3 linked regions of the Homo sapiens genome follow. The protein of the gene in region 3 purifies or fractionates together with the protein of the main gene of each other region. This does not show direct contact. Each region holds a gene or a part of one and is shown on either strand. Other genes may lie near its edges.

The links. Proteins that work in one complex are often made in the same cells at the same time.
Region 1: the proteins of TNS2 (region 3) and UTRN purify together in Homo sapiens (affinity purification with mass spectrometry; 4 studies listed by BioGRID and IntAct, with this or other methods). This does not show direct contact.
Region 2: the proteins of TNS2 (region 3) and SNTB2 purify together in Homo sapiens (affinity purification with mass spectrometry; 4 studies listed by BioGRID and IntAct, with this or other methods). This does not show direct contact.

Annotation. Positions count from the first base shown.
Region 1 is NC_000006.12:144,484,335-144,491,334, reverse strand, and holds part of UTRN (utrophin), read right to left. Parts: intron 5,951-7,000; coding exon 5,816-5,950; intron 3,788-5,815; coding exon 3,638-3,787; intron 2,663-3,637; coding exon 2,501-2,662; intron 1,265-2,500; coding exon 1,136-1,264; intron 407-1,135; coding exon 233-406; intron 1-232.
Region 2 is NC_000016.10:69,295,164-69,302,163, forward strand, and holds part of SNTB2 (beta-2-syntrophin), read left to right. Parts: intron 1-4,426; coding exon 4,427-4,611; intron 4,612-5,668; coding exon 5,669-5,761; 3' UTR 5,762-7,000. UniProt on the Homo sapiens protein: Adapter protein that binds to and probably organizes the subcellular localization of a variety of membrane proteins. May link various receptors to the actin cytoskeleton and the dystrophin glycoprotein complex.
Region 3 is NC_000012.12:53,045,855-53,053,205, forward strand, and holds the start of TNS2 (tensin-2), read left to right. Parts: upstream 1-4,210; 5' UTR 4,211-4,331; coding exon 4,332-4,406; intron 4,407-6,000; coding exon 6,001-6,109; intron 6,110-6,600; coding exon 6,601-6,638; intron 6,639-7,351. UniProt on the Homo sapiens protein: Tyrosine-protein phosphatase which regulates cell motility, proliferation and muscle-response to insulin. Phosphatase activity is mediated by binding to phosphatidylinositol-3,4,5-triphosphate (PtdIns(3,4,5)P3) via the SH2 domain.

The DNA of each region.
Region 1 (7,000 bases), on a different chromosome or scaffold from region 3:
TGTTATATACATGTCTATTCTAGTTTCCTTAGCTATCTCTCTTATCTCTTCTAATTTCTTTGGAGGGAAAGACCACACTTCTTATTTTTTAACACGTTTTCCATCATCAATCCTTATGTTTAGCACACTGTAGACTAGTGATCACTGGACACACTAGGCATGTACTTGCTAGACCAAGCCATAACAGCTGCTGAAAAAGCCACTGGATGTGCCAATCACCCAAAAGCCTCACCATACACTTGTCCAGGTGCGTCTGTATGACGTCAGGGTCTACGTCCTTCACATCCAGAACGTGAAGTTCTGCTTTCACGCCATCCAGCACACGCTTGCAGTCCAGCATGCGCTGCTCGAAGTTAGCTGGCTTCTGGAAAAGCTGGAACTTTGTGGACACCTCTCGGAGTTTCCTCTGTTTGCAGAAATGAAAATATGCAATTCCCATCAGGATGATTATCTCTCTCATCATGAGCATAACAGATACTACTAAAAATTTGTACCATAAAGTACCAAAAGAAAAAAATTCAGAAATATGACCCAAAATAAAAAACTCCTAATGAATCTCAGTGAGGGTACCCGATCACCTAAGTGAACTGCATAGCCCAGTGTCAAAAATTACAACACTCAGTGTCTCAATCTCAGAAGTAATAGATTTGGATAAGAAATTTAGATAAAGCTGACCTCACTGGAATTAAAACTTCATGTTCAAAAAGATAGTTCAGGAACCTAGAACTCAAAATGCCCTTCATCACAAGTTCAGAGTGAAAGTCAATGTCATATCAACCATGAAAGAACTAAATGATGCTGCATCCAATTCATGCTCGGCCTGCCCACAGCATCAGCCACACGATACTGACAGAGGCTCTGCATTAAAGAAAAAGTGTATATAAAGCTAACTTCTAAATCTGGCTCACTCTCTTGTTTCTCATCTCAGCTATCAAAATCAGATTTCATATTTTTCCACACATGCAACAATTTGTTTCTGCTGCCCTAGGATGCAACCTTCAACACATCATCACTCCCATCCCATGGTTTACATCACAAAGAATACAAACGGTGCCCAAGTAATCAATTCTTTCTCTTTTTTGAAGAAAATTCCCAACAAGTTGAAAAGTAAAAGGAAGCTCCTGGCCTTCTTTACCTGTAGCACATCCATCTGACTTCCTCCTCTGGCAGTCCTACTCTCTGGGGAGGTCAGGGGCTGAGAACGCATATTTCTTCTCAACTCCTCTAGGGTTAGCTCATGGGCTGAGATCTCTGCTTGGATTTTCTAAAAAGAGATTGGAAAGGGGAGAGGATGTCCTTTTTTTTTTACTTAAGTATAAAAAGAGACAATACAAAAGTTCTATATCGTTGTGTAATACATGATATCGTATTTTACATAATGTTGACCTCCACAGAAGCTTTAATAAGTTTTTGTAGGCCAGGTGCGGTGGCTTATGCCTGTAATCCCAACACTTTGGGAGGCCGAGGCGGGTGGATCACGACATCAGGAGTTCAAGACCAGCCTGGCCAAGATGGTGAAACCCCATCTCTACTAAAAATACAAAAATTAGCTGGGCACGGTGGCGGGCGCCTATAATCCCAGCTACTCGGGAGGCTGAGGCAGGAGAATTGCTTGAACCTGTGGGGCAGAGTTTGCAGTGAGCCGAGATCGCGCCACTGCACTCTAGCCTGGGCAACAGAGTGAGAATCCGTCTAAAAAATAATAATAATACGTTTTTGTATAATAATAATAATATGGCCCACTGCATGGTATGACTATTGTACATGACGCACCTGCTAAGGGCTTTGCATTTGTCGTTTCTAATGTTCACAACTTATTTATAAGGAAGGAATTGTCCCAACTTCACAGCTAAGAAAACTACAATTTAAAATATACAGGACTTTTCAGCCAGGCACAGTGGCTCACGCCTGTAATCCCAGCATTTTGGGAGGCCGAGGAAGGTGGATCACCTGAAGTCAGGAGTTTGAGACTAGCCTGGACAATATGGCAAAACCCCGTCTCTACTAAAAATACAAAAATTATTGGGAGGCCGAGGCAGGCAGATCACTTGAAGTCAGGAGTTCAAGACCAGCCTGGCCAACATGGCGAAACCCCGTCTCTACTAAAACTACAAAAAATTAGCCGGGCGTGGTGGCGCGTGCTTGTAGTCCCAGTTATTCGGGAGGCTGAGGCAGGAGAGTCACTTGAACCCAGGAGGCGGAGGTTGCAGTGAGCCAAGATCGTGCCACTGCACTCCAGCCTGGGTGACATAGTGGGATTCTGTCTCAAATAAATAAATAAAATAAAATAAAATAAAATAAAATAAACTATATAAGACTTTTGCCAGAGTCTCACATAGAAAGCAAGAGAACTCCAAAACCCAAATGCTGCCCTGTAAGTAAGGTCAATCTTTCCCATTGACTCTCGGTTTTGGAGAGCAGGAGGGGTTCTCTTATAGTTGAGGAGGCAATTACAAAAGCTCTCTTTACAGCTCAAAAGCCCTCAAATGCACGGCAATACCTGAGCTTCCTGTGGAACTTGGAAAGCATCTATCCTGTCAGTCAGGTATGTGGTGAGCTGTTTGTCCAGCTCCCCCAAGCTCTCTTGCAAGACTTGAAGCATCTGGTCAGTTTCCCGCAGCACCTGGAGTTGCTTTTCCAAAGAAATCTGCTTGCTCTCTGCCTGCACAAAGGAGAAATTGAATCATTAGTTGCCCAACACAAATATAAATAGCAGAATATATATATTCTGGCCACTAAGAAAAGACCATAAAAGCTTTCATCCAAGACTTTAGCTTTCTTTATAAATAAATAATAATTACTAATGATAACAGTGAAAATGTCCCACTAGGATCTTATGTACCATGCAGCTGAATTACTAATTATTACTTCTTTCTATATATAATGTTGAAATACAAAAATGTAAAGGTTTCCCATAAGATGCATTAAACAGAAGATAAAAATGTGTTATTTATTATAATTTTAAAGCATTTTTAGGAATCAGCAATGTCTGCCAATTAAGAATATAAAACATAAGAAAAATGTCTATCAATACACAAACATCAGAGTCTCTTTTTTTCCAAAGCCTAAAACAAATTCTATAGGTGTACATACATATCAAACTACTATTTACAGCACTTTTGGGTTAAGCTTGATGTTATTCATGGGCTGAACATCAACAGTTATTATTTAATATGTGTTTGGAAGCACCTAATATTCATACCCAACCTTCCTATAAAAGAAATGTTCTTTCTCTAATTTGTGATACGAATATGTATGTTACAACCTGGATATGAACTAAGAGACTATGGCTTTCACAGCAGCTTATGTGAAATATCATGGCCCTAATATTTACTAGGATAGTATGAGTTGTTGTTCTTATATACAGCTATCATATGATCCTTAATGAAAATTAAATGTTTGTAAGTAGAAGTAATCTCAAAAATAATTTTTTTAATCATCCAGTTCTGTCTTAGAGTGTTAGATCTATTCTTCCTTTCTGAATATTTCAATACCCTCAATGCCCCTGTTAGCATTGGTTACCAACTTTAACCAACATTAAAGATTTTTCCAACATTAAAGCTCTATGATATGGAGCTTAGGGCCAGCTCCACTTCATCAATACCTAATCAACACCCATGTATGTCCCAACTCTTACCAGGTGACTTAGATCTTCATATCGGCTGTTGAAAGCCTCCAGTTTCTCACTGATTATATCATCCAGGATCCCCCCATCAATCAGAGTCTGGCCAAGCTCTCGAATCTGGGTGCGATTATCTGCCGGGTGGCGCAGAACAGATTCCAGAGACTGGAATGGAGATGGGAAAAAAAAATAATAATGCATTTACTAAGGCAAAAGGTATCAAGGATCCCCAAAATGTCTATTTGTTAAACAAGTAATTATATTTTCTAAAAATCTACCTAAGTAACAGGACCAAAAGTTAAGTAAATTACTAATTCACAAAAATATCCATCATGGGATTAAAAAATGCATAAAATTGAGAAATTAGCACAAGTGATATATGATATAATTTCACAAAAATAATTTCAACTATTATTAATTATGGGAGGGTGAGGCAGGAGGATCACTTGAGCCCAAGAGTTCAAGGCTGCAGTGAGCTGTCATACCACTGGACTCCAGCCTGGGCAACAGAGCGAGACTATGTCTCTAAACAATAAATAAATGAATAATAAAAAGTTAAAAATAATTATTAATTATATGGGGAAATGCTCATGACACAAAGTTCAAAGGCAGAGAACAGTACTATACAAGCAAAATGATCTCAACTTTTATTAATTATATTACTAAAAATAAGTAGTCATTTTCCTACAATATATGCAGAATAAGAGGCATTGTTTTATATACACACTTTTTATATACATAAATCTAATTAACCATATGGGCTAAATAGCATTCCCAGTTTACAGATTGGAAAATTGAAGCTCAGAAAGGTTAAATTACTTGCCTACATACACACAGTCAAAAGAAGAGCTAAGATTCCAACATGGCTCTAAAGCTTTAAGACTCCAAAGCCTGGCCAAGTGCGATGGCTCACACCTCTAATCCTAGCACATTGGGAGGCCGAAGCGGGTGGATCACCTGATGTCAGGAGTTCGAGCCCAGCCTGGCCGACATGGTAAAACCCCATCTCTACTAAAAATACAAAATTAGCTGGGGTAGTGGCACACGCCTGTGATCCCAGCTACTCAGGAGGCTGAGGCATGAGAATTGCTTGAACTCAGGAGGTGGAGGTTGCAGTGAGCCAAAATCATGCAATTGCACTCCAGCCTGGGCAACATAGCAAGATTCCATCTCAAATAAAAAGATAAATAAGTAAATAAAAGACTCCAAAGCCTTTGATCCAATATACTACCTTCTAGTATGCATACATAAAAGATAATAATTAGGAAGAAATCTACAAACTGTTTTAAAATGTTTATCTTAGAGTTTGCTTTATACTTTTCTTTATTTTCCATATTTCAAGAATATATACGTATTCACTCTTACATTAGGAAAAAAATTAAGCTTTTCATATTTTTCATTCACTCTGTCTCTCACTCTGCTATATTTGAGAAGTGACATCTTTTCTCTAGCAGAGCATCCGTCTCCTGGAATGTAAGTGCCACATTTTACTCATTTCTGACCTTTAATCCAGTTGTCCACTCAGTTCCCACATGGTACCATGACATTTTTAAAAGCCTATCTACCCCCTTCCCTTTTCTTTTTTGTTAAGCAAACCTACCCTCTTTGCACTGTATTTCATTTAAGAAACGGTTATTAAGTTAACATGTGCTACACACTGTGCTGGGAACTGAGGAATAACAAAGCATCGGGTACATTTCTTGGCCTCAAGGAGTTCAAATCCAGGCTTGAAGACAAGCTCCTACGACAAGATCCCATGGCTCAACCACTGTCTTAACTTCTAGCATCTGAAGGTAAGAGACAGGAATCCCCTATAAACTGTCAGTGCTGTGTTTAGTGAGTAAAAATAACTTGTTGATGAAACAAGAGAGCAGTTGTCCTAATAACATATGGCAGAGCTTTGTCCAGGGCCTACTAAAATAAACTGGAAAACCACTAGAGTGCTTCAACATGTCTAAAATGTAAGATGTCAAACAGCTAACCACGTCTTGAGGCTGATATAATGGGTCACCAATAATCTAAATACACATGATTGTATAAACACTTCAGGCTATGGAAGAAAATGCAAGTGACATTGAAAACCACTGAGGAAGCAAATGCATTTGCCTGCGTAAAGCATTACATTCCTCATTGTAATACACGTGTGGCCTCATCACAGCAAAGAGAAATGCCGTGGAGATCACGGGTTCCAACCTCCAGGGCTTCGTTGACAGCATCCGTCTTCTCAGGCAGGACCTCTGTGCTCTTCATCCGCTCTTCCAAAGTGTTTAACCAGGTAGTTTCAAGATCCAAATAGTGAAGCAGTTCAATCCAACAAGACCAGACCTCCTAAAGCATGAAAAATTTTAAATTAGACAAAAAGCCATTTCACACATCGTATCTCTAGTACTACACATTCTCTTTAATCGCTAATAATTTCATTTGGATGTGAGTATACCTAGGAATTCAGAACTGATGGAGTTGAAACTTCAAAAAAATAAAATAAAATCGGCCAGGCGTGGTGGCTCACGCCTGTAATCCCAGCACTTTGGGAGGCTGAAGCAGGCAGATCATGAGGTCAGGAGATTAAGACCATCCTGGCTAACACGGTGAAACCCTGTCTCTACTAAAAATATATATATATATATAAAAATATTAGCCGGGTGTGGTGGCGGATGCCTGTAGTCCCAGCTACTCTGGAGGAGGCAGGAGAATGGCGTGAACCCGGGAGGCGGAGGTTGCGGTGAGCTGAGATTGCACCACTGCATTCCAGCCTGGGCAACAGAGCAAGACTCCATCTCAAATAAAATAAAATAAAATAATCAACAAAATCATATGAGACCAGTTGGTGAAGGGTGGGGAGCAAAGAGTGGGCAAGAGGCTGCCTCACTCTTTAAAATAAATTCCATGATCTGATTTAAATGTCAAAAATAGAACTATATAATTAGTAAGAAAAACAGGAGAGAAACATTATTTAGTTTGTTTTTTAAAGACCAAGTGCGGTGGTTCACACCTGTAATCTCAGCATTTTGGGAGGCCAAGGCAGGTGGATCACATGAGGTCAGGAGTTCAAGACCAGCCTGGCCAACATGGTGAAACCCCATCTCTACTAAAAATACAAAAACTAGCTGGGCATGGTGGCAGGCACCTGTAATCCCAGCTACTCGGGAGGCTGAGGCAGGAGAATCACTTGAACCTGGGAGGCAGAGGTTACAGTAAGCCCAGGCCACGCCACTGCCCTCCAGCCTGGGTAACAAGAGTGAAACTCCATCTCAAAAAAAAAAAAAAAAAAAAAAAAAAAGTTTGGTTTTTGAACAAAATGAAAAAATTGCTCCCAATTGTAAATTTTTAAAAAATAATTTCATAGAAAATTGAAATCTCCTGGGCCCCACCCAATTC
Region 2 (7,000 bases), on a different chromosome or scaffold from region 3:
GTGCTGCTATTGTGTGTCTTTTTCTATTTCTGGTAACAACCCTGTTAAACAAAATCAACATACTGAATTTTTTTTTTTTTTTTTTTTTTTTTTTTTTTGAGACAAAGTATTGCTCTGTCTGCCAGGCTGGAGTACAGTGGCCCGATCTTGATCTCTGCTCACTACAACCTCTGCCTCCCAGGTTCAAGGAATTCTCCTGCCTCAGCCTCCCGAGTAGCTGGGACTACAGGCGTCTGCCACCACTCCCGGCTAATTTTTGTATTTTTAGTAGAGACAGGGTTTCACCATATTGGCCAGGCTGGTGTCGAACTCCTGACCTTGTGATCCACCCGCCTTGGCCTCCCAAAGTGCTGGGATTACAGGCGTGAGCCACCGCGCCCAGCCAACATACTGAATTTTTTACTGACTTATCTATAAATTGGAGTGCATAGTGGACACATAGCCATCCAAAAGCATTCTAAGTGAACCAAGACATAATGAGCCACCTGCAACAGCTCCATTAATAAGTCCCAGATGCTATCCCGTCAGAAAAGGGCCACTCCTCTTACTAAATGGGGAATTTATACTGAAAAAAAAAAAAAAGCCACTTCTCATACACACACACATAGCTGTTAAATCAGAATGAAAGGCTTATTTCCCCTATCTCCCTTTGGTTCATTACTCCTAAAAGGGTAAGGGGTGTCAGGCACTTAATCATCATTGCATCACTGTGGTGTGATGTACTCAATGTTTAGAGAAAAACTGTTTAATTGGTTCGATTTGGCACAGCATTTACATGACCAGGTCACAGTCTCATTCAGAAGAATCTGGTATTAATTATACATTTTAAACTATGGCCGGGTGTAGTGGCTCATGCCTGTAATCCCAGCATTTTAGGAGGCCGAGGCGGGTGGATCACCTGAGGTCGGGAGTTCGAGACCAGCCTGACCAACATGGAGAAACCCCATCTCTACTAAAAATACAAAAAATTAGCCAGGCGTGGTGGCGCAGGCCTTAATCCCAGCTACTTGGGAGGCTGAGGCAGGAGAATTGCTTGAACCCAGGAGGCAGAGGTTGTGGTGAGCTAAGATCACGCCATTACACTCCAGCCTGGGTGACAAGAGTGAAACTCCGTCTCAAAAAAAAAATTTTTTTTAAACTAAAACAAGCTCAATATCTAGACCTAAATACATTAAGTTTGACACACACACACAGAATCACACACAGTCACATTTGCTTTCCATTCTTTCCTTCTCCAGGGGAAACAATCCAAAACAGAACATTTAAGAAATCTCAGGCCGGTCGCGGTGGCTCATGCCTGTAATCCCAGTACTTTGGGAGGCCGAGGCGGGTGGATTACCTGAGGTCAGGAGTTTGAGACCAGCCTGGCCAACATGGTGAAACCCTGTCTCTACTAAAAATACAAAAAATCAGCCAGGCCTGGTGGCACATGCCTGTAATCCCAGCTACTCGGGAGGCTGAGGCAGGAGAATTGCTTGAGCCCAGGAGACGGAGGTTGCAGTGAGCCGAGATCATGCCACTGCAGTGCAGCCTGGCCGACAGAGAGACTCTGTCTCAAAAAAAAAAAAAAGAAAAAAGAAATCTCAGGGGCCAAGCACTTTGGGAGCCCAAGGTGGGCAGATCACGTGAGGTCAGGAGTTTGAGACCAGCCTGGCCAACATAGTGAAATCCCTGTCTCTACTAAAACTACAAGAATTACCTGAGTGTGGTGGTAAACACCTGTAATCCCAGCTACTCGGGAGGCTGAGGCATAAGAATCATTTGGGAGGTGGAGGTTGCAGGGAGCCGAGGTTGCGCCATTGCCCTCCAGCCTGCATGACAGAGTGAGACTCTTATCTCAAAAAAAAAAAAAAATCTCAGGCCAGGTGCCGTGCCTCACACCTGTAATCCCAGCACTTTGGGAGACCGAGGCAAGTGGGTTGCCTGAGCTCAGGAGTTCAAGACCAGCCTGGGCAAGATGGCAAAACCCCGTCTCTACTAAAAAATACAAAAAATTAGCTGGGTGTGGTGGTGCCCGCCTGTAATCCCAGCTACTCAGGAGGCTAAGGCATGAGAATTGCTTGAACCCGGGAGGCAGAGGTTGCAGTCAGCTGAGATTGCGCCAGTGCACTCCAGTCTAGGTGACACAGCAAGATTCTATCTCAAAAAAAAAAAAAAAAAAAAAAAAAAAAGGAGGCCGGGCACGGTGGCTCATGCCTATAATCCCAGCACTTTGGGAGGCCAAGGCGGGCAGATCACAAGGTCAGGAGTTTGAGACCAGCCTGACCAACATGGTGAAACCCTGTCTCTACTAAAAATACATAAATTGGCCTAGTGTGGTGGCACGCTCCTGTAATCCCAGCTACTCAGGAGGTTGAGGCGGGAGAATTGCTTCAACCTGGGAGGCAGAGGTTGCAGTGAGCCAAGATCACGCCACTGCACCAGCCTGGGAGACAGAGCGAGACTCTGTCTCCAAAAAAAAAAAGAAGCCATGTGCAATGGCTCACGCCTATAATCCCCACACTTTGGGAGGCCGAGGTGGATGGATCCCTTGCAGTCAGGAGTTCAAGACCAACCTGGCCAACGTGGTGAAACCCTGTCTCTACTAAAAATGCAAAAAAATTAGCCGGGCGTGGTGGTGTACATCTGTAATCCCAGCTACTCAGCAGGCTGAGGCAGAAGAATTGCTTGAGCCCAGGAGGGTGAGGTTGCAATGAACCGAGATCACGCCACTGCACCCCAGCCTGGGTGACAGAAGGAGATTCCATCTCAAAACAAACAAAAAAAAGAATCTCTAAATCTCTCTTTTTAAAATTGTTTAGACATTGCTCTGTCACCCAGGCTAGAGTGCAGTGGCATGATCATAGCTCACTGCAGCCTTGAACTCCTGGACGCAAGTGATCCTCCCACCCCAGCCTCCTGAGTAGCTGGGACTATAGGCACACACCACCATGCCCAGATACATTTTTTATTTTTATAGAAATGAGATCTTGCCATGTTACCCAGGCTGTTCTCTAGCGCCTGGCCTCAAGTGATCCTCCTGCCTCCTGCCTTAGCCTCCCAGAGTGCTGGGATTGTAAGCATGACCCACCACACCTGGGGCATTTGCCAGTCTTGATGACCAAAATTGTTTGTATCCTGTCAATTCAGAGGTGTCCTTTGAATTGTATCTTTGATAGCGTTGACTGTGACTTTTGCTGAGTATAGCCTTTAACTTTGATGAACATAATCTTTATCTTCATCCCAAATGCCAACCAAACCATGTCACGGCTCCTGAAAGGCCTCTCTGCCTTTGCTCCTTTGGTTGGTCCTTCTTGCCCAGTTCAGTCCTTCTGCCTCTTCCTCCCTGCCTGTCCAGTTTTACCAATTCTTTTTTTTTTTTTTTTTTTTTTTTTTGAGACAGTGTCTCGCTCTTGTCACCCAGGCTGGAGTGCAGTGGCGTGATTTCATCTCACTGCAACCTCTGCCTCCCAGGTGCAAGCAGTTATCCTGCCTCAGCCTCCCAAGTAGCTGGGATTACAGGCATGTGCCACCATGGCTGGCTAATTTTTGTATTTTTAGTAGAGACGGGGTTTCGCCATGTTGGCCAGGCTAGTCTCTAACTCCTGACCTCAAGTGATCCGCCCACCTCGACCTCCCAAAGTGCTGGGATTACAGGTGTGAGCCACCGTACCCGGCCAGTATTACCAATTCTTTAGGGCCTATCTGAAGGCCCATCTCCTCCAGGAAACCTTTTCTTGACTTTGGCCTCATTCACTTTGGTGTTTGCTCATGTTCTGTACATTCTGCCTTACACAATTGGGGATTTCCTGTCTATGCCAATGAGTTTACAAAGTCCTTGAGAGCAGGGACTGTGCCTCTTACTTCTCTAGTGCCTTGCACAGCCTACACACACTTGCCAGTATGAGTGTTCAGTGGGTACTCGAGGAATTAAATCGAACAGATGTCAAGGAGTGTTATGGTCATTTCTGCCTCATCTCAGTGACCAAAACAAAACACACTTCTTTTTTTTTTTTTTTTGAGACAGTCTTGCTCTGTCGCCCAGGGTGGAGTGCAGTGGTGCAATCTTGGCTCACTGCAACGTCCGCCTCCCGGGTGCAAGCAATTCTCCTGCCTCAGCCTCCTGAGTAGCTGGGATTACAGGCACCCGCCACCACACCCAGCTAATTTTTATATTTTTAGTAGAGACGGGGTTTCACCATGTTGGTCAGGCTGGTCTCAAACCCCTGACTTTGCGATCCGCCTGCCTCGGCCTCCCAAAGTGCTGGGATTACAGGCGTGAGCCACCACGCCTAGCACAAAACACACTTTAGAAGTTTCCATACAGGTTAGGTATCACACATTCTCAAGAAAATATTTTTCCTATTTTGAAGTCAGAAGATTCCCTTTTCACTTGATAACTGACATAGCAACTTTACAACTAATGTTTTTTGCTTTTCTTCAACAGGCTGCATGTTAAATGGCCAAGAGGTGAGGCTTACTATTCACTATGAAAATGGGTTCACCATCTCAAGGGAAAATGGAGGCTCCAGCAGCATATTGTACCGCTACCCCTTTGAAAGGCTGAAGATGTCTGCTGATGATGGCATCCGAAATCTATACTTGGATTTTGGTGGTCCCGAGGGAGAACTGGTAAGAGTGTTTCTGAAACACATGTTTATCTAATAGATGTTCTCTTTCCTTCTCATTACTTCTTACCCCTTATATACAAAGTCATGGACTGACATTCCATTTAGAACCATGAAATTTTAAATTAAAAAAAATTTTTTTAAAGATGGGGTCTCTGTCACCCAGGCTGGAGTGTAGTGGTGCAATCATAGCTTCCTGCAGCCTATACCTTCTGGGCTCAAGTGATCCTCCCACCTCAGCCTCCTGAGTAACTGGGACTGGACTATAGGTGTGTGCCACCATGCCTGGCCAATTTTTTATATTCTTTATAGAGATGAGGTCTCGCTTTGCTGCCCAGGATGGTCTTGAACTCCTGGCTTCAAGTGATCTTCCCATCTTGGCCTCCCAAGGTGTTGAGATTACAGGTGTGAGCCACTGTATCTGCTCTTCTTCAGTTTTCAAGATGGCATTGGGTGTTGGTTTTTGTTGCCGTCATTTTTCTTTTTTTTTTCTTTTTTGAGACGGAGTCTCGCTTTGTCGCCCAGGCTGGAGTGCAGTGGCACCATCTCAGCTCACTGCAACCTCTGCCTCCCTGGTTCAAGCAATTCTGCTGCCTCAGCCTCCCGAGTAGCTGAGATTACATGCACGTGCCACCATGCCTGGCTAATTTTTCGTATTTTTAGTAGAGATGGGGTTTCACCGTGTTAGCCAGGATGGTCCCAATCTCCTGACCTCATGATCTGCCCGCCTCAGCCTCCCAAAGTGCTGGGATTATGGGCGTGAGCCACCGTGCCTGGCCTTAGATTTTAAATCCTCTACTATTTAGTTCTTCCTACCAGGCATGGTGAAACCCAGTACACCACCAGTTGTCTCCTAATTGGGGATGTGAAACCTCACACCAGTATTATGACATGGAATAACCTTACTCCATAGTGCACTTTTGCCTGTGGCTTTAAGTTCCTAAGAGTTTCCATAGCTCTGGCACATTCTTTACCTACCTTAAATTTATTTTGCATCTTCGTTTATTAAGTTGTCTGTATATGGTAGTGAGGTAGTGATGCTTAGTGTCCTTTCTCCACAGACCATGGACCTGCACTCTTGTCCGAAGCCGATTGTATTTGTGTTGCACACGTTTTTATCGGCCAAAGTCACTCGTATGGGACTGCTTGTATGAGCAACAAAAAATCAGAAAAGAGCCTTGACTGTCACAAGAAATATTTCCACCTCAAAAAAAAAAAAGCACAAAAAGAAACTCTTTGCTCTCCTTCAGCACAGTGCCTTCCCAAGGACCTGCAAATAACTGCTGAACCATAACCGTGTTTAAAGAAGAGCCTACCTTTCACAGTCTACCTTGGCCAGATATTCTAGCACTCTAAAAGGCTCCAAAATGAAGCTGTTGATTTATTCTCATTTCAAAATATGGTTTATGAGTAATTAGGTTTATTTCTACTGCTAAAAAGAATGGCTCATTGTTTTCTTTTTTTTTCATTGTTTTCATTTTTAGACATAATCAAATACCCAAGCATTGTTTTCTTTTTCTTCTCCCTGTAGGATTTGTGTTGTGCTTAGCCTTGATCTCTTGTTCAGAACAATTGTCCCTTCCCAGGTGCTAGCTTGCAGCAGCCTGTTGCTTCCTGAGCATTCCAGATAGGTCGTATGTCTTGGAATTTACTGTCCTCACTAGCTCCTTCCACCATAGGAAGTCCTTGAATTGTATCACCAAAGGGTTGTTCCATTTGCCCTGGATCTCCCTCTATCTCAGCCTGGCCATCACTTCCCACCTTATCCCAAGCTTTGCCACTGTCTCTAGGACTTAGAACTTGTAAATTTGATTTGCCTTGCCTTCTACTTCCTTTCTAGTGGTGACTGAGTTGAAAAGCAAGTTGGAAGCCACTGCTTTTAAAGAAAAGTTTTGCTTGGTTTAGGTTTTTCCAATTTTATTTTTGTTAGGAGCCAGGGGATAAGATTTATTTTAAATGAAAATCCTCTTCCTAGGTTAAGCCATTTTTTTTATTGCTTACCAAATGTGCCTTTGGTTAGGGTTAGTGGAGCTTTATTAGTCACTATTTGAATAACTGGAAATCACTGCCATTTCCAGGAGATCACCTATCCTAGTTTTGAGGAATAGTCATTGAGGTGGGTTTCCTTAATGGCATCTCTTCTAGTAGGCAGATCTGTTTGAACAAGATAAATCCTAAAGAGCCAGCCTGCTTGAGGAGTAGACTTGGTGGGTGAAGCCAGCAATTCCGCACAAACGTCATGTTGAATTGTTTTGGGCTGCCCAAAAACAACAGGATGCAGCATCCTGGCTGTGGCCTGGCCCTTTGTGGCAGCAGTGGCATGGACAAGCAACTGCTAATTCGAGACTTACTATTGGCTTCACAGCACACCCTACAGTGAGCAGGGTGATGAG
Region 3 (7,351 bases):
GAGGGTGAAGGAGGGAGAAAGTTTCAGGAAGTGCTCACTGCTAAAGGACGTTGGGGGAATGTAGGAATGGCAACAGGTTCAGAACTTCTAGGAAGATGTCCCCTACCTTATCCCTACCCTCCACCTTCTGCTCCAGGGTGGCACGACTCAAACCTGCCCTACGGCCCATTAGCTCCATTCCATGAAGTTCCTATCCAGTACCAGGCACTGCAAAAGAAGGGAATGAGGTCAGACCATAGAAAGAACTTCCATCTCCATTTGGAAAGGCTGGACTCAAGTTAAATGTAAGGAAGACCTTCTCAGAGGTCTCCTGCGAACTGGGAATGACGGTCCAGCTCTTTAAAATAGGGCAATGGGCCGGGCACGGTGGCTCACGTCTGTAATCCCAGCACTTTGGGAGGCCAAGAAGGGGAAATCGCTTGAGCTCAAGAATTGGAGACCAGCCTGGGCAACATGGCGAAAACCCATCTCTACAAAAAATTAGCTGGGCGTGGCGGCGCCCATCTTGTAGTCCCAGCTACTCGGGAGGCTGAGGTGGGAGGATCGCTTGAGCCTGGGAGGCAGAGGTTGCAGTGAGCCGAGATGGCGCCACTGCACTCCAGCCTGGGCGACAGAGACAGACTCCCGTCTCAATGAATAAAGCAGGGCAGTGGATGGGATGGCTGGAGCTGCTTGCGGGTGGAGATGGGGGCTTGAGCCTGACGGAAAGGTCCCCAGCTGTGAATCCTTTGAGAATACTAGCCCAGGAGAAGTCTCCTGTGGGGCAGAGGACCAGGGAAGGGTGTCCAATGACTTGGGCCAAAAGTAACACCAGGTGTCTTCACCTGATTCAGGCGCCCGCCTGGGTAGGGGACGCTAGCACCACCAGGCTAAGCCACGGGTGGTCCTCTCAGGTCAGGCCCAAGCCCAGGCACACTCCTGTGGGGAGGGTAAGAGGCTGACGCTGCGCGGCAGTTCCCTGTCCCCTTGTTCCTAGTCCCTTCTAGACCTACGCCCACCGTTTCTTCTGCGTCTGTCTGGCTCGCGTGTTTCTTTCTGCCTGTGTCCCGCCGGGTCAGGCTCTCCCCGTCTCTCAGACTTTCCCGTCCCCGTGTCCTCCGCGGCCGTCTCTCTCCAACTCTCTCCCCCTCTCAGCCACTTCCTGTCTCCAGTATGTCCCTGGCGCGGCCCGGCTGGCCGTCTGCGCACCCTCTCTCCCCTCGGCTCTTTGTGAGTGTGGGTTCGCGGGAGAAGGTGGGGAGGAGAGGAGGCCGAGGGGTGGGGAGCTGGCGGAACGTGGGGATTGGAGCCGGGAGGGAGGAGGAGGAGGAGCGGGCTGCCACGGGCGCGGGCGCGGGCGCGGGGCGCGGCGGGGGCGGGAGGGAGCCCAGCCGAGCCCGGCCGCCCGCTCCCGCCACTGCCACCGCCTCCTCCTCCGCGTCCGCTCGGCGCGGGCACGGGCGGGATGGGCTGGCCCGGCGGCTCCCCCTGCTGCTGCCCCGCCCCGCCGCGCCCCCGCCCGGCCGGGCGCCCCCCGCAGGTGAGTGGCCGCGCCGCGCTGGGCGGGCGGCGGTCTCTGCGTCACGGCCGCGCGGGCAGTGCCAGGGGCGGGCGCCAGGGGGCGCGGGGCCGCCGGAGGTCGAGAGGGCGCGGGGCGCGGGGCGCGGCCCAGGGCTGGGGCCGGGGGCTCTGGCTGGCCGCGGAGAGCTGGGAGCAGCGGGAGGCCGGGACAGTGACTAGGGGGCGGGGCGCGGCCGCGGCCCTACTCGATCAGGCCGCCACGCCTTCCAGCACCCGGGGCGCACGGGGCCGCACGCCGTGCCACACACGCAGGCCCGGGACCCGGCAGCAGCTGGCAGCGGCGCTCGGGCCCCGGCCTGGCAGGGTGCGGGCGAACGTTTTCCTTTCCTGCTTCACATGTGGGACAGAGGCCGTAAGCGGGCACAGATGAGGCTGATTCGACTCGCCAGCCCCGCTCTGCGGCCCCCTCCAGTCTGCCCCCATCCTCCAGACCCTTCTGGGAACACCCCCAGAGCCGCCGCCCTCCCTCGCTCCTTCCCTGGGCCTTACCCCTCCTCCGCGGCGGCCGGGCTCCCAGCCTCCCTTCCAACCACAGCTATTTCCAGAAAGGGGGGTGTGGGTGGAGGGGTTTCTCCAAACAAACCCAAGACTTCGGAGAGAGAGGGGGCCCGGCTGGGGGAGAGGTTGACAGGCTCTGGAATGTTACAGGCGGGAGGAGGGTGAGGGTCCAAGAGGGTCTAGTGATGCCTTCCCAGCCCTCCTCAAGTGAGCTACTTTTCCCCTCGGGACTGGCTCATAGGGATCCCATCCCTGCTTCCCTTCCGAGGTGCGAGTGCCACAGGATGGGAGGGACTCACAGCCACAGTGGATCCTGACCACCCCACCCCTCACCGAGCTCACTGCTTGGGCACCTCCTTGCTGGGTCTGGGTGGGGAGTGTGAGACCAGTGAAGGTGAGAGGATGTCTGGGGACCTGTTCCAGGTGAGGGGACTTTCAGCCCCTATGGAGGCAGCAGGAGAGTGAAGCATGTAGAGGAGTCCTGGTCAGGGCCATGTGCCATAGGAGCAGAAGCTGGGACTGGACAGAAAAAAGCCACCCCCACTGCCCACCTTGTCACACTGCCCCATCTCCCCCAAGCAGGGCTGGGGGCTCGACAAGGCCAGGCCCGGTTGCCCACACTGGCCGGGGGCCTGGAATGTGCTGGGACACAGCCAGGCTGGCAGGATGGGGGTGGGTCACAGAGCCCGTGCTCCTCTCCAGTTACAGGCAGGGAGCCCAGGCCTGCCACACAGATGCCACCTTCTGGCCAGGATATCCTGGGGACACATTTCTTGGCCTGGAAAATTGGAGCTTCCAGGGAGAGGTGTCAGGCTAGGCCCAATCCAGTCAGGTCCTCGCAAGGGTCTCAAGTGGGCACCCACAGCAGGCCTCACCCCAGAGAATGCAGGATTCTTCATCCCAGGGAACCCATCCTGGTGGATATGAAGGAGCAGGAAGCAAGTAGAAGGGACTCCGTGGGAGAAGCCAGGGCTGGGGGAGTTGCCTGAGTACTGGGACATTCAATAAATACCATGCAAATGAGAGGGGCACATTTGCACATTCTTTCAAGTGACAGCTATAGCCTGTCCCAGGGGCTGCTGTCCACAGCTTGGGGCTGAAGACTCCCAGGCCATTAACCCCTTAGCTTTTAGGAAGATTACTCCCCCTTTTTCAAGGCCCCATCCACCTCCCTCCCTTGACTCCCAGGACGGGAAGTTGGCCATGTTCCCAGGAGGGAGGCCGGAGGCCCATGGATGGGGGTGGAGTATGTGTTGGGAGGGGGGACCTCCTGTCCAGTCCTCAGGCCCTGGGACAGCTGCTGAGGAAGGAGAGCAGACCCAGGAGAGCCATGAAGGTAGTACTCAGGCTTCGGGGTTGCCGCGGGGGGAGGGTGCAGCCCTTGGGTAGAGAGCCCAAGTTGCAGGGCTGGAAAGAGGGCTAGGGATCTGTGAGATCATGTCTGAAACAAAGCCAGGGAATGGGTGAGTGGGGGGCACTGTGTCAGGAGCAGAAACCTGGGGGCTTTCAGGAGAAGGGCCTCATATGCCTTAGGCTGTGGCAGGAGAATGGATTACTCCCCAAACCTGAGCAAAGCAGTCTTGTGGCTGGAACTTGGCCTTGCAAGGTGTATTGAGGGTAAAGGTGGGCGGTGCATGCTTTCCTTTTCCTACTTCATAACGAGTGAAACTGAGACAGGAAGGGGGCCCCCAGTCCCATTTTTACCTGACTCTCAGGACACACTCGGGATCCTGGGCCTGCCTGCTGGTAGTAGTTCCCAGCTCCACTCCCTCCCCAGCGGAAGTCCCTCGAGAGCTTGAGAGTTCAGGCTGGAGCCTGGCTGGGACACACTGTTCCCCACTTGCCCTTTAGCCCTGCCCCGAGACCAGAATTCTCACCCGGCCCCACCGGGGGTGGGGGCAGAATCTCAAGACCATGGATCCCTGCAGATCCCTGGAGAGTGTGGTGTCCCAGGTGTGGGACAACTCCAGAGTTGGGGGAGTAGGGGGAGCAAAAGATCACAGGCTGACACTCCCAGCAGGGTAGATCCTGGGAATCTGATCTCCTGGCCTCCCCCACATCCTCCCCCCTCCACTTCCTGGAGCAGCGACCTGCCCCCTTCCCGCCTGCACTTCCCTCCACTTCCAGGGCCGGGCTTCTCCTCACACCAGCCAGACAGCCTACCCTCCGCCCAGGGGAAGCGGCTGCCTCCGCCAGGCCGCTTCCAGGAAGCCCCGGGCCAGGCCCCAGCATTGTTCAGGCCCTGGGGCCAGCACCCCAGCCAGCCGAACACCATGAAGTCCAGCGGCCCTGTGGAGAGGCTGCTCAGAGCCCTGGGGAGGAGGGACAGCAGCCGGGCCGCAAGCAGGGTAGGAGTGCCCACCAGCTGGGCAAAAGAGGGGCAGGGGTGGAGGTGCGGGCAGTGGGGGAGGGGACCAGGAATCAGGCCAGGCCTTCTTCCCAATTTCAGCTTCCTCAGCCTTCTTCCCTGGCCCAGCATCCCCTCCGGAGTGGCCAGGGCTGTAGTGTGAGGGGATGTTTGGGTTAGAGTAGGTCCTGCTGTCTGTTTTGGCTCCTCTCACCTTCCCTGCTCTAGCCTGGGCCAACCCCAGGAGGTCCTGGCCCCCCAACATAAGCCCCAGGTGCCTCACTGCAGGACTTTGCCATGCGCTATCCAGGTATCCTCCAGCAGGCTCAGAGATCATCAGGCCCCTTCCCTGGCCCAGGGAAGTTTGAGGGAAATGGGGTGGCAGGGTGGAAAAAGAGAGAGGAGAGGGAGTCAGGAGTGCTTTGGAACTGGAGGTTTGCTTTCCACTGACAACATCCATATCTGCTGCTAATGCCAACATGCTCCCAAGTGTCTTAGTGGGTCCCACAAAGTTGATCCAGCCCAGAAGAGTTGCAGGGACAGTCAAGAAACCAGAGGTGCTGCCCACATCCCCATCACTCCCTTTCCCAACTTCCCAGCCTTGCCCCAAAAGCAGCAGCTCAGGACAACCTGAGATACTACTGTGATGGGTCCCCGGGAGGAGGACAGCAGGAGTCTGAACTCCAGAGGAGGGGGAATATGGGTAAAACAGAGAGATGGCAAGGAGACAAGCTGTCCCCAGACAGAGGATGGGAGGAGAGAACCCACAGTGGGAGGGGAAGGGACTGAGATAGGCCTGGGCCATAAGGGGGCATCCCAGGCTCCTGCCTCACTGCATCTCTGGGTCAGGAGGGGCTGAACAGGGAATCTGGTCCACTCCTTTCTCATTCAATGCGTGAATCCCAAGTGCCAGGGTGCAGGGGGTCGGGGGAGAACTCACAGCATCCAAAGCCAGCTAAACATCTCTCCCCAGTGACAGGCTTCTATCTGTTTCCCTCCAGCATGACCACCCCCATTACACAATTGCTGTCTGCTGCCTCAGTGCACAATGAGTAAACATGTTGTTCTGACCGTGGGGGAGGAGGGCATGTCAGCTGCCTGGAGCGTGGGGACAGCAGGAGCTAAAGGAGCAGGACTGGCTGAGGCCACTCCTGCCGGCTCAGTCTGGTGCTGCAGGACTGACATACAACACATATGTTTGGAACCTCCCTGCTCACTCTGCACACAGGTCTCCATGCGGGGAGGACAAGATGGGAAGAGTCAGGGAGTACCCTTACCACACCAGGGGGAAAGCCTGAGCATGGAGGCTTTTCCACAAGGGCATCACACACCAGGGCCATGTGAGGGGCCCAAGTGATCCCCTGGGGAGGAGCTGACCCAGCAAAGGTGACGCAAGGGGTCAGATTCCATGCACAGTTGAGGACAGGCCCCATGACCGCCCTGAAGCAGCTGTGGCCAAGTGCGTCCTACAAGTTTGAGGGCTTGATCTGGACGGAGAAAACCAGTGCAGTGCTAAGGCAAGGCTCCTGCCCAGTCCCGGAGATGGAGATGGGCCCACTGGGAACTCACACCTCTGTTTGTCCCTCCACCTTCAGCCTAGGAAAGCTGAGCCTCATAGCTTCCGGGAGAAGGTTTTCCGGAAGAAACCTCCAGTCTGTGCAGTATGTAAGGTGACCATCGATGGGACAGGCGTTTCGTGCAGAGGTGAGGCTCTCTGTCCTGTGACTCTGAGACCCTCCACCCAGTACCACTGTGTTGCACAACTCCAGCAGGCCAGCTCACACAATCTCAAATGTAATATGCTGCTCCTGGATTAGGCACAATGGCAGCTAAGAAGCAGCTGCCTCCCCCTTCAGATGGCCCTGGCTCCCCATGACAGACACCTCCCATAACCCAGGAGAGCCAGTACTCTCCATCACCTTCCCATCCTGACTTGTGACGGTAGTCTTCCTTCCCTCTCTTCCTCCTCACCTCCACCCACCCTGGAACGTTACCCCTGGCCTGGGCAGTAGTACCCCACTGCCACACTCTTCCCTCAAAACCTAGCCCTGCTCCTCTGCCCCAGCCAGCCCAGTCCAGGTGGGATCTTGGAAGTCCCAGGGTCTGGTTCCAGGGTCTGGGAGATGAGGGAAGGCCATTCCTTCCACTGTCCCACAGGCCCCTGCTAACCCCTCTCCTCCCCTTACCTTCCCTAGTCTGCAAGGTGGCGACGCACAGAAAATGTGAAGCAAAGGTGGGTATCTGATTCTACCTGATAGGGGGAGAGGGTCTGGAGTCCCTTCCTCCTCCCAAACAGGCTTCTGCAACCACACTGGCATCAACCCTCCACCTCCACCCCTCTCACCACTGGGGAACCCCTCCTGGGTGGGAGGGGTGCTGTACTGGGCCCTTTAAGAACCACCCTACTCCGCCTTCTGGAGGGCTGGCCAGCCCAGGCGGGTGGACAGCAAGACAGCGTTTGTCTTGGTGCTGTGCCCAGACTGCAGCTGGCGAGAGGATGGGGGTGGGGAAGAGGAGGAGAATGAGGAGGAGGAAGGGTGGGGTGGGTGGGGAGTGGGGGAGCAGGATTTCAGAGACTGGGCAGCCGGATGGGCTGTGCCTTCCCTCTGGGGAAGGGTCCTCAAAATGCCTGGGCGGGTCTTGTCCTGGGCCCTGGAAAAACTGGGCCTTTCCAGGTATAAGCTGTGGATAGCACCCACTGTCCACTGGGGACCTGAGACAGCCCTGTCTCTGAAGAGGTCCCCTGGTCCTCTTCCTTCAGGACAGGGGGAGGAGGATCCCAGGGCCCTGGAGCTGGCTTGGGGGAGCTGTGTGCCCAGGGGCGGGGTCTCCCGGTGAAAGAAGCCAGTGTCCATCCCTGGCCATGGCCTGCCTGCTTGGCTCTATATATAACTCCTGCCCTACAGCTGGATGAATGGGGGTCTGTGTGGGCTGGGGGCTGAGCGC